Linked DNA regions of Homo sapiens. The protein of the gene in region 3 purifies or fractionates together with the protein of the main gene of each other region. This does not show direct contact. Each region holds a gene or a part of one and is shown on either strand. Other genes may lie near its edges.

Region 1 (3,216 bases), on a different chromosome or scaffold from region 3:
AGGGGGAGGGGAGCAGGCTCTGGAGGGACGGGGAAATGGCGAGAAGAGGTTATTTACACCACCGTCCTGACCTTCTGGAGCAGCGCTGGCTCCGATAAATAACCCGCTCAGCGCCGTTTCAGAGCAGGAGTGGGAGGTGCAGGAAGTGAGCAAGGGCTGGAGAAGAGCCCCCACGCAGGTGCGCGTCTCTGGGTTACTAATGGCTGAGGCGGGAGCAGGCAGCTGGCTTTGGGGGTGATGGGGGAAGAACTCAGTTCCCTGGGACTCCCACTGAGAAAATACCATCCCCACCCCACCCCTGGCGCCAATTTCCAGGCGAGGGGACGGAGAGATGCCAAGGAGGCAAACAGCCCCGTAAATTAGGGATGGGGGGGCACTGCTAGGAGTCTCTGAGGTAGGAGGGAAGAAATATTATAAGATGGGGAATGACGGGGGGCTGGAGGAACAGGAGTAGCTGCCAAAAAGAGAGGAAGAGAAACAGAAACATCACACAAAGGCAGTTTGGAAAAAATGTTTTATTCCTCTTTGCACAGAGCAGTTTATGAAGGTGGTTTTCTCCTGACTCCATGCATCTTTTACACAAAGATGCCCCCTTAAATATGCCCCGTTATCTGCCCCACCTCAGTGCTGGAGAACTGGCAGTTAGTAAGTGGGGCAGAATGCTTAAGTCTCAGGAAGGTTTTTAAAGGCATTTTTGTGGGGAGGAAGTTCTGGGTCAAGGGGAAAGATTAGACCCAAGAGTGAGTATTCCATTCTCCATCTTCCTGGGGAAATCCAAACCCCAAAGGTTTTATGAAGAAAAGCACCTCTCTCAGCGACCTAGAGACAGGGAGAGCACAGACCTACTGCTTGGGTGTAAGGCTGAGGCAGAGAGAGGGTAGGTTGCAGCGACTGCAGACCCACGGCAGAGAGTAAATGCATGTCGGGGAGCTGAGGGGACAGAGACAGCCTAGAGGCCCAAGTCATAAGTTCCACTCCTTCCCCAGTTCTGAGTAGAAACTTTTCTTCCCAAGACTAGAATGGAGTTTTAGTTTTAGGAACTGGCTTTGCTCCAGGACACAGAGAAGACAAACCAGGCAACGATCCCACAGGTAGTAAGGGTGGACAGTTAAGGTAGCTAACTAAGAGATGGACACTCGCCACTGCAGTTTTGAAGCTATATGCCAGATCAGGGTACAGAATGCATTTTATATGCCCTGTTCAATACAATTTAAATCGCTGTTTCTTCCATGTTGTCCCTTCCCTATGAACTATTCCCAAAGCCTCTTCCAAGGCAGAGGACAGGGCAGTAAGAAGGAATGGAAGAAAACACTGAGGTCACTAAGTGGGGTTAGGGCTTAGATTGGATAAATCCCTACCCATCCCCGCCCCCACTCGTTCTATAGAAAAGAATTCTCTTTCTCTCTCCCCTTGCTGGGCTGTTGGGATGAGGGCCAGGTAGAGGCAAAGGGAGGAAAACACTCAGCACATTCTTTCTCCTACTTTAATCTGAAGTGTAGCTACAGCAAAGGGCACAGAATTTACAAAAATGTCAGGGCAAGGGAGCATGTGAGCATAATCCAGTCTAGAAAGAAAGAGGGTGCTTCCCCTGCCCTATTATCTAAATATGCTGGGAGCTTTACTCCCAGAACTGCAAGAAGAATGAAAAAGAATAGGAAGGGTGTAGGGGAGGTTGAGGGGGCAACCACAAACAGAATGGAGATTTAAGGATCCCTGTGATCCCCGAGATGACCCTGAGAGCATCGATTGGGGAACTAGATGAAAATTCACAGCAGACATGCAAATTTTTTGAAGAGGATGAAGAGCCAGGAACAGTGAGGTCTTCACCGAAGGAGTGACCACTTGATCTGTTCTTTGGCTGACTGCAGCACCTGCAGAGATAAGAGCAGCATTGAGGAAAGCTTGCTGACAGGGCAGGGTAAGGATGAGGGCTGGGGATCTCCTTCCCCTCACTTGTCTTCCCTGTCCTTAGAAGAATGGAGAATAGAAAATCCCCAAGGGTAAAGAGATGGGAAGAAGCTCTCTAAGGCCCTAGCAGATTGTTTGGAAAATTCCAAAAAAATTCAAACCCACTGAGGGGATGAAGAGAGAAGAGGTATACCTGGTATAAAAGAAAAAAAAAAAGGGAGTTACTGGACATATGTTAAAAGGGGCGGCGGGCAGGGGGCGGGTAACAAATCCAGATGGACTTCTTGGTGAGAATTCCAAGTGGGTAGAAAACGGAACCCCTCCCTTCCCCCTACATCAGGTAGACAATCTATCTGCAGTCAAGGTAGCAAGATGGATCTGCAAAACCTGCATATTCTAGAATATGCATTTCCAGCTTAGCCCTCAATTGAATAATAAGAGAAAGAGAGTGTGTGTGCACAAATGCACACAGACCATCTGCTTAAGGCAAGCCTCTGCTGGGGAATAAATCACTGAATGAGGCATCAGGCAGGCAGGGAGGGTTTGAAGGGTACAGAGCAAGGCTGACAGCCACTGCTCACAGGTAACTGAGAAAGGAGTTGGAAGTAGGGGTAGGGAGTGGCTGGCTGTATGAGTCCCAGTTCTCTGGAATAAGAGGGAGCCAAGGAAGATGTGTCTTGAGTCTCTAGTTTCACTCAGATTTGAGAGGTATGGGTGGAATGCTGTTCTAGCCTCTTTAGTGACCCAGTCCATCTGGAAAGGAAGAAGGGAGAGTCATACCTGAGACACGGTCTGCTCCGTAAGGGGGACATCTTCACCCTATGGCACAGAGATACAAGCATTTAGTGTGGGAGAAAGCTGGAGTAAGACCTGATTGGAGTCTGGTATTAGAGAAGAAAAAAGTGATCCTTTAAACTGAAACAAAGGGCAGATGCACTGAACTTCTCAGTCCCTTCTAGGGACTAGTACAGCTACAATTTTACTTGGCCAGAGGGACTATGAACAAAAAAGGGTCATTTCATCCAGCTTCCATTTTAAGGCAGGAGGACTTCTTAAAAGATTTAACTCCATTCAGAGTAACCAGCAGGTTATCTGATCCTCAACTCCCTTAACGTGGGGGTGGAGGACCTGATTCCCTAGTCAGAAAAGGCCTTTTCTGAATATCAGTATCACTAGGGAAAGGATGAGGGGGAGCCAGGAGTGGTTTAATGGATCCCGCAAAGCCTGATGGGTAACGACAGCATGTTAATTTGAAGAAATAAACTGCTGCAACAGCAGCCTAAGAAGACAAAGCGGGGAGTTGATGGG
Region 2 (4,160 bases), on a different chromosome or scaffold from region 3:
ATAACCGTTTTAACCCAGGAGGCAGAGGAATGCAGTGAGCCAAGGTTATGACACCGCACTCCAGCCTGGGCGAGAGAGCGAGACTCCACCTCAAAAAAAAAAGATTCTGTTGGGCGTGGTGGCTCACGCCTGCAATCCCAGCACTTTGGGAGGCCGAGGCAAGCGGATCACGAGGTCAGGAGATCGAGACTATCCTGGCTAACATGGTGAAACCCCGTCTCTACTAAAAGTACAAAAAATTAGCCGGGCGTGGCAGCGGGCACCTGTAATCCCAGCTACTTGGGAGGCTGAGGCAGGAGAATGGCGTGAACCCGGGAGGCGGAGCTTGCAGTGAGCAGAGATCGTGCCACTGCACTCCAGCCTGGGCCACTGAGCGAGACTCCGTCTCAAAAAAAAAAAAAAAAAAAAAAAAAAAAAAAAAGGATTCTGACGGGGGGGCCAAGGGCGGTGGCTCACGGCTGTAATTCCAGCACTCCGGGAGACAGAGGTGAGTGGATCACTTGAGGTCACTAGTGTGAGACCAGCCTGGCCGACATGGTGAAACCCCTTTCTGCCAACTACATAAAAAAAAATTAGCCAGGTGTGGTGGCACATGCCTGCAATCCCAGCTACTAGGGAGACTGAGGCAGGAGAATTGTTTGAACCCTGAAGGCAGAGGTTGCAGTGAGCCGAGTTCATACCACTACACTCCAGCCTGGGCAACACAGCAAGACTCCGCCTCAAAAAAAAAAAAAAAAAAAAAAAAGATTCTGAAGGGGCCAGGCACAATGGCTCATGCCTGTAATCCCACCACTTCGGGAAGCGGAGGCCAGAAGATTGCTTGAGGCCAGTAGCTGCCTCCCAACATGGTGAGACCCCCGCCTCTCAACAAAAAAATTAAAAAAAAAAAAATTAGCTGCTGTAGTGGTGCACATCTGTAGTCCCAGCTACTCCGGAGGCTGAAGTGGGACGATCGCTTGAGCCCAGGAGTTCAAGCTGCAGTGAGCTATGACCACGTCACTGCACTTCAGCTTGAGCAACAGAGTGGGACCCTGTCTCAAAAATTTAAAAATAGCATAAATATTCCAAACGCAATTATATGGAATAAGTTGGAATGGAAGATAAAAAGCAGAAGCCAGAGAAAAAAAGTAAAGTCGTCTCCCATCGGAAAAATTTTGGAAACAACTTCTTTAAAAGATGAGAGAAAATGTTCCCTTGCTTGCAAAATTAATGTCCCACTCAAGTCACCAGTAGGAAATTCTGCTATCTTCTGTGCAACGATGATAGCTTTCCCTACGCTTATGAAAATCAATTCTGATTGCTAGAAAATATGGTGGAAAATAGAATCCCTCTGTACTGTCAGCTCGCAGAATTATCTGAAAGTGTTAAGTCAATTCCTGCTAGGGCACTCCGGATGACAGTTCTCTGCACCCTTCTGGATGACTCTTTAGAAACCATATTCCATCCCTAATTCTGGCTGTCTAGAATATATGAAACATTTAACTCAACATAAAATGATAATAGCCAACTTTCAAAGGTCAAAGGGGACCAGTTTATAACCTTCCCTCAACACGTGTTCAGTACAAACTTCCGGGTGCACTTACAATTGGCTGCGCAATTCAATGGATAAAAACGTTGCTTTATTTGTCTCTCATTTTCTGGCCCGTTCTTTTCCCACGTTTCTCAACCAGCGACTCCCCAAAACAAAAGCCTCCCACAGTAAACCGAGCACGCACATAAAAAGAGCTTCTCTGTGCGAGGATCAAGTTAGTGGTCCGCAAACATTAACCAAACAGAAGCACAAAGCAGGGGTGGGAAGGGGAGGAGCTGGATGCCAGGGTCAGGAAAGAAACAATCAGAAGGGTTTAGGAACATCCAAATCTCCTCAGCGGTTAAACCGACCCCAAACCACTTCTGGGAAACCACCGGTATCCACTGCTTTGGGGAACTCTGGATGCTCGTTATGCCAAACGCTCTCAAAGTAAGCAAATCCCCAACTGCCGTTCCCCTCCATGGGTAATTCTTAGGGTCTGGGAGGTGAGCTCGCCCGCCGAGGCAGAACTAAGCGAGTCGCCTGGAGAGGCGTGAAGGGAGCCTGCACGTGTCCCCCGCGGCTTCCCCACCGCCCCAAGAGCGGGGCATGTACGAGACCGCGCTGTGGGGTTCAGATTTAGGAAGGACGACCGCGTCGCCTGCCTCCCTCCCTCGCCCAGAGCCGGGAGCAATGCTGGGGCACGAAAGAGGACTTGGGAAGGATCCGGTCCTTACTTTCCCCGCGGGTCCCGGACCCGCAGCCCCCGGGTTGTGAGGCGGAAGCCAAAGGGGCGAACCCAGCGGAGCCGGCGTGCACAGACCCTGCCCCGCGGTCCAAGAGGGGTGCCTCCGGCCCGGGACAGCGGGGCTCCCGGAGCCCGAAAGCCCCACGAGCGGCGACAGCGGGGCCCGGCGCTGACGAACAGAGGAAGCGAGTACAACGGAGCCGCCGTCGGGAACATGCCCCCGAGGGCCCCGGAGCGCGCGGCCGCGAGGAGCGGCAAGCGGCGAGGGAGGCCCCAAGCCGGGGCGAGGTGGCTGTCCCCCCAGCCTGGCCCCGCACGGCCCCCCGAGGGTGGGAGTGGGAGGCTGTCCGGGAGGGGGAGTGTGGAAGGAGAAAAGGGCCAAGGGAAGGACTTACTTTCCCCGCGGGACCCGGCGCCAGCACAGCTCCTCCCGGGAGGTGTGAGTTTGAAGGACCAGAGGCGACTGGAGCGGAGGCGGCGGTGGCGGCGGCAGCAGCGGCGTCCTGCTCTGCCTACCTCCCCGCCGCCATCTTGACGCCCCTCCCCCAGCCCCCCCGCCCCGCCGGGAGGGGCGGGGGAGGGGCAACGGATGAGGCGCCGCGCGCACGCAGCGCCCTCACGTGACTTCCTCCCTCCTCCCCCACCCGCCTCTCTGCGCCCCTCTCCGCCCCGCCTCCCTCCTAGGTGAAGGAAGATGATTTCCCCCCCATCTTGACCACCCCCCAGTCTTCGCCGCCAAAAACGGACTCCGCCGGCTATCCTCGGCCCGGTACCAGTTGTTGGATCCAAGAGAATTCCGGAACCCAAACGGTCCATTACCGCGGCTCTGGGGTGGGCGAGGGGTGAGGGGGCCGGGTTTCCGCGAAGGGGGAGGGGGAAGGCGAAGGCCACCTAGGAGAGTCACGTGACTACTGTTTCCGCCGGCGCTCACGGAGAGCTCGCGGTAATTCCGTTTCCCCGCCCTTTTTTCCCCGCGGCCTGTCGGGAAGAAGGTCCGCGTGCCAGGGCTATCGGGAGGTCGGCCGGAGGGCCGCGCGCATGCGCCCCGCGCCTGCTTTCAAACTCCGGTTAGGAAGGGCCTGGAGCTATTTTCAGAACCTGTTAGGGTGGGGAGCTACGGCCCAGGAAGTTACCTAGCAGCGTTTCTGTCACTTGGAAGATCTCTTCATTACCTAGTTAGTCCTAGAAACAAAATGTTTACATATTCATTGCTTGTTAGGCTCGCTCAAAGCACTTTATTGGCAGTGAAACCGCAAGTAACCCGGAGCCCTCGGCGCGACCACGGCTAGAATCAGAGCCTAAGGCGTGTGAGCTCAGCCATCCCACGTCTGTCTTCACGCTCATACGCAAGCCCGACACACCGGGGCTCCCACTTAATGAATACTGAAGAGTAGGGCTGTCCCTACCGCTTCTCACTTCCTTGTTTTCATCTTTTCGTTATTATTAAGCGACCTAACACAATAAACATATTACCTTGTTGGTAACCCTTTTGTAAAGTCATTCTGAAAGTGCTGTTTGACTCCGTTGCTTGGGTAATAAGCACGCCTGGGTGATTCTTGCCCCCTACTGGCTGCGCATCCTACAAGCCTAGTGCTGAAAGCAAACCAAGTAGCTGGAACAGTTGGAGGTTACAGTGTGAACTCTTCCAGAGACAAAGTATTCGGGGAAAGAAAGGAAAAAGTAGGCACAGAAAGAATAGGAAACTTCAGTGTTTGTACACATAGATATGTATTATATATCTATGTATACATTTATAAATATTTTTAAAGTGCTAACTAATCGCTTTACTAATTACATTATTTCATTTAATCCTCTCACACACATAGAAAAAAAACCTATAAAGACAAAAATAAAAAATATTTTAGGCCGGGCGCAGTGGCTCACGCCTGTAATCCCAGCACT
Region 3 (3,500 bases):
CACCTTGGGTGGACATTGGGATTGTATCAAGTCTTGGGCTATTAGGAATACAACTGCTGTGAATATTCTTGTACAAGTCATTTTGTGGACATTTTTTCCCTTTTGGGTAAATACCAGATACATTTGCTGAGTCGTAGGGTAAATGTGTAACTGTATAAGACACTGTCAAACCATTTTCCATAGTAGCTGTAGCATTTTACACAGCCATCGGTACTACTTAGGAGATTCCAGTTGCTCCACATCCTCGCTAGATATTGTCAGTCTTTTAAGTTTTTTTCTTTTTAGTTACATTGAATGTATAATGGTAGCTCATGGTGGTTTTACTTTCCATTTCCCTCATGTACATGTCTTAATTCATTGTACATCTTTAGTGTGTTTATTGGTTATTTTTATATCTTTTGTGAAGAGTATCTTTTGGCCACTTAAAATGCCAGGTCATTTGAGTTGTAACACTTTATATATTTTGTCAGATGTAAGTATAATTAATATTTTTTTTAGACTTCAGGGAAACTTTAGTTTTCAAAGCAATCTAGTTCAAAAATGAGTGGAGGTTAACAGAGAGGAAAATATGAAACCAGAGAGAATCAAACAGACAGAATAAGGGGGGACTGGCAGTTGGTCAGGGGCGTCTGTGACAGATCTTCTCTCTCTTGGAAATGAGGTCCTCACGGATTCTGGTCAGTTCATCATTTTCTTCACGTCCACGGTTCTGCTTCTTCCTCAGGCTCTCCTCGAAGGCCAAGACCCCTGTGGCTCCAACTTGAGTGAATATTTTCTTTAGGTTTCTGGTTTACCTTTTTATTTTCTGAAGCATCTTTTTAAAAAAGGCTTTAGTGTGATTGTCTATTCTATCGATTTTTCTCCTTTTTTGCTTAATGCTTATTTTCTGTCCAAGACGTATTTTGCCTACCATGGCCACAAAAATTTTTGCCAGTGTTTTTTCCTAGAAGTTTTATAGTTTTAGTTTTCACATTTAGGTCTATAATTCATGTAGAATTAATTTCTCTGTGTATGATGTAAGATAGAGATTTAGAGTCTTCCCCACCCCAAATGCAGATAGCCTGTTGTTTCAACACCATTTGTTGAAAAGAGTATTCTTATTCCTTTGAATTACCTTGGATTTTACCCCCTCCCCCCAAAAAAATCAGTGAATATATCCAATGCGTGTGTATTTTTTGACTCCGTTGTGTTCCACTGACCTCTTATGTCTGTCTTTACTCCAGTACTGCATTGTCTTCCCTTACTATATTATAGTGAGTCTTGGAAAGTGCTAAGAGACACTTTGTTGAGGAAAGCCTGTTCTTTTCTCTGGAATTTGTAATTTGTGGTAAGCAGATATATAAGATTTTTGAAAAATAATTTTCTGTGAATATTTTTAAGTTCTCAATCTGACTGTGAGTGAGGTGCATTAAAGATGTTATTTGAAGTGAACATGAAAAGGAAAAACTTGGTTGTTATTGACTGGAACTCTGGATTCGTATATTCAGAATGGTTGGTGAAGCAGTGTAGCTAGTTGCATCTGTGGATTCCTCTTGGTTGTAGTTTGTACTGCAAAATATTGCTTCCTAATGATTTTTTTTTTTGCTGGTAAAAACCATAAAAGTATATTCACATTGTTGTGAAACAGATTGCCGAAACTGTTTCATCTTGCAAAACTGAACCTCTGTGGCCATTAAACAACAGTTCCCCTTCTCCCAGCCCTGGTAACCACCATTCTACTTTTTGTTCCTGTGAACTTGACATCATGTAAGTGGAATCATAAAGTATTACCTTTTTCCTTTTTATGACTGGCTTATTTCATTGACGTAGTATGTAACAGGATTTCCTTTTTTAAAAGCTAATTGATATTCCATTGTGTGTCTATTCCACCCCCCCTCTCCCATTTTGTTTATCAGTTCATCTCTGGGTGGATATTTGTGTTGTTTCCACTTCTTGGCTCTTGTGAATAATGCTGCTATGAACATGGGTGTGCAGATGTCTCTTGGAGTCTGTGCTTTCAATTTTTTGGGATATATATTCAGAAGTAGGATTGCTGGATCATATGATAGTTTAAACAGCAATTTCCTTTGGTTGCAGTTTTGATACTGAGAGTAGTACAGTTGACCCTTGAACAATGCAGGGTCAAAATGCAAGGCACCAACCCCTGTGCAGTTGAAAATCTGGTTATAACTTTTGACTTTGTCAAAACTGCTAAGTATAGCCTACTGTTGACTGGTAGCCTTAACAGTAACATAAACAGTTAACATATATTTGTATGTTATATGTATTATATACTGTATTCTTACAATAAAGTAAGCTAGAGAAAAGAAAATATTACTAAGAAAATCATAAGGGAGAAAAATTACATTTTACTGTACTGTATGGTGTTTATCAATAACATTAGTTTACGTTGTCTGTTTATAAGATATGTCATCTGTTAATAAAATATGTCATCTGTTAGAAATTGTAGGCAACCACAGCTGCAGATTTCAGTCCGTGGTACATATCAAGCAATTCAACTTTTTTATTTTTATTTTTATTTTTATTTTTTTGCATTTTAAAATTAAAGACAGGATCTTGCTGTGTTGCCCAGATTGGATTCAAGCTCCTGGGCTCAAGTGATCCTCCGGCCTCAGCCTCCTGAGTAGCTGGGATCATAGGCATGCACCACTGCTTCTGGCAGTTTTTTTCTTGTGATGTCATGCCTTCTCTCTGCTTCTTGGGAGCACTTTCAGCATCACTAGGGGCACTTTGTATAGGACTCATGGTGTTATTTAAAGTTTATGGTATTGCAGTAATCATGATGAAAAATAATGTGAAAACCGTGAGAGATCACTTTTTACTGCAATACGCAATTTGTTGGAGACATGAACTGCTCAGCAGAGATGATTAGCATCACATGGTGTTTTACACAAGGTGTTTTAAGCAGATACTTGTAACATTTGAGTACACTGAGATAACAGGAAGTGGCTATGAAGTTAACACTAGTACACTACTGTAGTTAATTTTATGCAGTTATGAATTAATACTCCATCTTTGTTTACATTTCTCTCTAACTTCATATAATAGATTTGTATGTTTTATGATAGTAAGTGATAAAATAACCTCATATCTAGGTATGTTTTATGCATTCATGACATACCTAACTTTTTCTTAATGTTTTCGTTATTTCTAGGCTATGCAGTTGTTCTGTGAGTTTTTTCAAATTGTCAAGTCTGCAAAAATTTTTCCAGTATATTTATTGAAAAAAATATGCATATAAGTGGGACCTGCACAGTTCAGAGCCATGTTGTTCAAGGGTCAGCAGTAGTCATTTTCATGATTAGATGTAGAGTGAGCATGCAGCAAGTTGTGAATATGAATACAATTGAAACAGATACCACTCTTGAAAGGAGCACCTCTTTTTATGTTTGTTTCTTTTGCAGATTGGGAAAATGAGGTACGTTAGTGTTCGCGATTTTAAAGGCAAAGTGCTAATTGATATTAGAGAATATTGGATGGATCCTGAAGGTGAAATGAAA
Region 4 (2,781 bases), on a different chromosome or scaffold from region 3:
AGCAGCACTTCGTATGGGTCTTATGGTGTTAAGATTTATGGGCTGGGTATGGTGACTCACGCCTGTAATCCCAGCACTTTCGGAGGCTGAGGCGGGCGGATCACGAGGTCAGGAATTCGAGACCAGCCTGACCAACATGGTGAAACCCTGTCTCTACTAAAAATACAAAAAATTAGCCAGGCGTGGTGCCTGTAATTCCAGCTACTCAGGAGGCTGAGGCAGGAGAATCGCTTGAACCCGGGAGGTGGAGGTTGCAGTGAGCTGAGATCGCGCCACTGCACTCCAGCCTGGGTGAGACTCCATCTCAAAAAAAAAAAAAAAAAAAGATTTATGACATTGTACGCAATGAAAAACACGAGAACTGAGAGAGCACATTTTACTGTGATATGCAACATACTAGAGAGACAAGCAGCTCCCGTGGAAATGATTAGCATTACGTGGTGTTTTAAGCAGGTACAATACTTGAGCTCACTGCAATAGCAATAAGAGGTGGCTGTGAAATTATGACAGTACAGTGTGTACTACAGTGAATTTTATGCAGTTAAGATTTAATGCTGTATCTTTTTGTTGATGTTTCTCTTGACTACAAATGGCACCATGTATGATCTGTATTTGTGTGTGTACATTTTGATAAATTTTAACTTTCTATAGATTTGTGTATATTTTATGGTAGTAATGATAAAAATAGACTAGTACCTACATATATTTTATGCATTCACAACATACCTTTTTCTTAGTTTTTTTAGTATTTCTAAGTTACACAGTTTGTGTTTTCAAGTTGTCACGAATTTCCAAAAAAGTTCTAATATATTAAATATTTATTAGAAAAAAACCCATGTATGAGTGGACCTGTGCAGCTCAAACTCATGTTAAGGGTCAACTGTATTTAGTCATTAAATATCTTTTTAAGACTTATTGAACTAAATGGTGTCAAAGATACAGACATGAATAAGACCCTTTCCTGGCCCCTTTCCTGGGAAGTGTACATTCTGGTTGGTGATTTCATGGCAAATCTTGCTTTCATTGTTTTTGTCATATTTTCACCTTCCTTTCAGGAACTCCTTTGTACTCTTTCCCTGTCTTGTGGTTTGTAGGGAAAGGATTTGAGAGTAGGATATTATTTAAACTCAATCTCTTAACCCCCACCCCAAATTCCAAAGGAGATGAGCAGGCATCAGATAACTTTTGGAGGGTCTTGAGAATCCCCTTTCTAGGGTGGTACTTCTACATTCCAGAATGTGGTATAGAGCCAGGAGTTGTTGAGATCAGAAGAAAGAAGTCATTCTTGTACCTCTCAGTTTTTCACAGCTTCAGTCATTACTTTAAAATCCTTTGAATTTCTAAGGTACCACACACTGTATTCAACACAACTGCAAAACTGTATCTCCAGGCTAAGCAATTGTTTGTTGGTGTTCTGTTTTGACTGGTCCAGAGGAGCCTTTGAGACTGTCCTCTCCTACTCTGCCGGCTGGGTGTCTAAGAGAGCTGATTGTCTTCCTCTCTAAGAGAGCTGATTTTCTTCCTTTTAGATGCTAAATTCTAGTTTTCATTTGCCCATTTCCTATTTCACCTTTTGAGTTTTAATTCTACTAGAGGAAGCACCAGGATTCTTGAGTCTTTATTTTGCTTAAACCTTGATAACTGTCCAAAGAAATGATTTTTCTTTGCTTTCTTGGGGCCTTTCCCTTTTACTTTGATAAGTCTTTCAAGGGGTTTGCAGTTCCCCCATAATCGTTTTGATAGGAGAAAGATTTTAAATTGGGAAGCTCACAGAGGCAAGAGGACAGCGTTTCTCAGAATTCCAGTTTGACCCTCCCCTACCCTTCTTCCTTGCCACAGGCCAAGGAGCGGGAGCTGGAACTGAAGAACACCTGGTCAGAGAACAAGCTCAGCCGCCGTCAGACCCAAGCCAAATATGGATTCTAGGGCTCTGGAACTGATTGCTCCCAGGATCTCCTGCCAGCCCAGCTGGCCTGGCCCCCAGCTTCACCTCTGGGACCCCAGCTGCTCTAAGCCCAGGATCTCTTTCCCCAAGGACCCAGCCCTCGCCTCTGCGAGAATGAACATATTTGATAGATTTTTCTTAACAAGTTAGAAAATTCAGCTCCTTTCTGTCCTGGAGCTAGCAAAGACTTGTGTGATGCCTCCGAAGGGGCTCTGAGTTCTGGGGTGGGAGTTTTGCTCTCTGTCAGGTGTGATAAAATGTTGAACCCTCCCCACCACCACTTTTTTTTTTTTAAACCAGGGATGTCTGTTGAAATAAAACATTCAGTCTGACAAACATTGCCTGCCCTGTCCCTGGATTTGTGTTTACCTTGTGTAAAGCACCTTCCAAATGATCTTGAGCTGCCTGATTGCTTTGCTATTTTTCCTCTCTATCCACCATCTAGCTGGGTTTGTGGCCATTGGAAACCCTAGAAATGGTATGCACAACTTTATATGAGGCAGGATGATTTTCAGAGAGGCCTGTGATCCCAAATATGTATTGCTAATCTCAGGTACCTCTGGAGACTGGGTGAAGTCAGGAGGTTTTTTCTGTAGTACAAAATAGTGTCAGGCATAAAAATCCTATCCAGCAGGAGGTAAAGTGGCAAAATCCCTGTCCCTGAAGATGATTCAGATTGACGCTGGTAGTCACTGGTCTGGATCAGTTTGGAAGCTTCACATTGAACTTGGGTGCTAGAGAGATACCCTTGGAGACTTCCAGAGCCCTAGCCTTCATTGAAGAAAGGAGGTACAGGGTCTGTAGACTCCAATTATCTGTAAGGCACTGTGACGCCC

The links. Proteins that work in one complex are often made in the same cells at the same time.
Region 1: the proteins of SUB1 (region 3) and COPZ1 purify together in Homo sapiens (affinity purification with mass spectrometry, with the first as the bait; one large-scale study listed by BioGRID). This does not show direct contact.
Region 2: the proteins of SUB1 (region 3) and SBNO1 fractionate together in Homo sapiens (co-fractionation; one large-scale study listed by BioGRID). This does not show direct contact.
Region 4: the proteins of SUB1 (region 3) and PRCC purify together in Homo sapiens (affinity purification with mass spectrometry, with the first as the bait; one large-scale study listed by BioGRID). This does not show direct contact.

What each region holds. Positions count from the first base shown.
Region 1 is NC_000012.12:54,349,131-54,352,346, reverse strand, and holds the end of COPZ1 (coatomer subunit zeta-1), read right to left. Parts: intron 2,728-3,216; coding exon 2,689-2,727; intron 1,872-2,688; coding exon 1,824-1,871; 3' UTR 501-1,823; downstream 1-500. UniProt on the Homo sapiens protein: The coatomer is a cytosolic protein complex that binds to dilysine motifs and reversibly associates with Golgi non-clathrin-coated vesicles, which further mediate biosynthetic protein transport from the ER, via the Golgi up to the trans Golgi network.
Region 2 is NC_000012.12:123,362,048-123,366,207, forward strand, and holds the start of SBNO1 (protein strawberry notch homolog 1), read right to left. Parts: upstream 2,801-4,160; 5' UTR 2,654-2,800; intron 1-2,653. UniProt on the Homo sapiens protein: Plays a crucial role in the regulation of neural stem cells (NSCs) proliferation. Enhances the phosphorylation of GSK3B through the PI3K-Akt signaling pathway, thereby upregulating the Wnt/beta-catenin signaling pathway and promoting the proliferation of NSCs.
Region 3 is NC_000005.10:32,595,557-32,599,056, forward strand, and holds part of SUB1 (activated RNA polymerase II transcriptional coactivator p15), read left to right. Parts: intron 1-3,404; coding exon 3,405-3,500.
Region 4 is NC_000001.11:156,798,535-156,801,315, forward strand, and holds the end of PRCC (proline-rich protein PRCC), read left to right. Parts: intron 1-1,839; coding exon 1,840-1,926; 3' UTR 1,927-2,281; downstream 2,282-2,781. UniProt on the Homo sapiens protein: May regulate cell cycle progression through interaction with MAD2L2.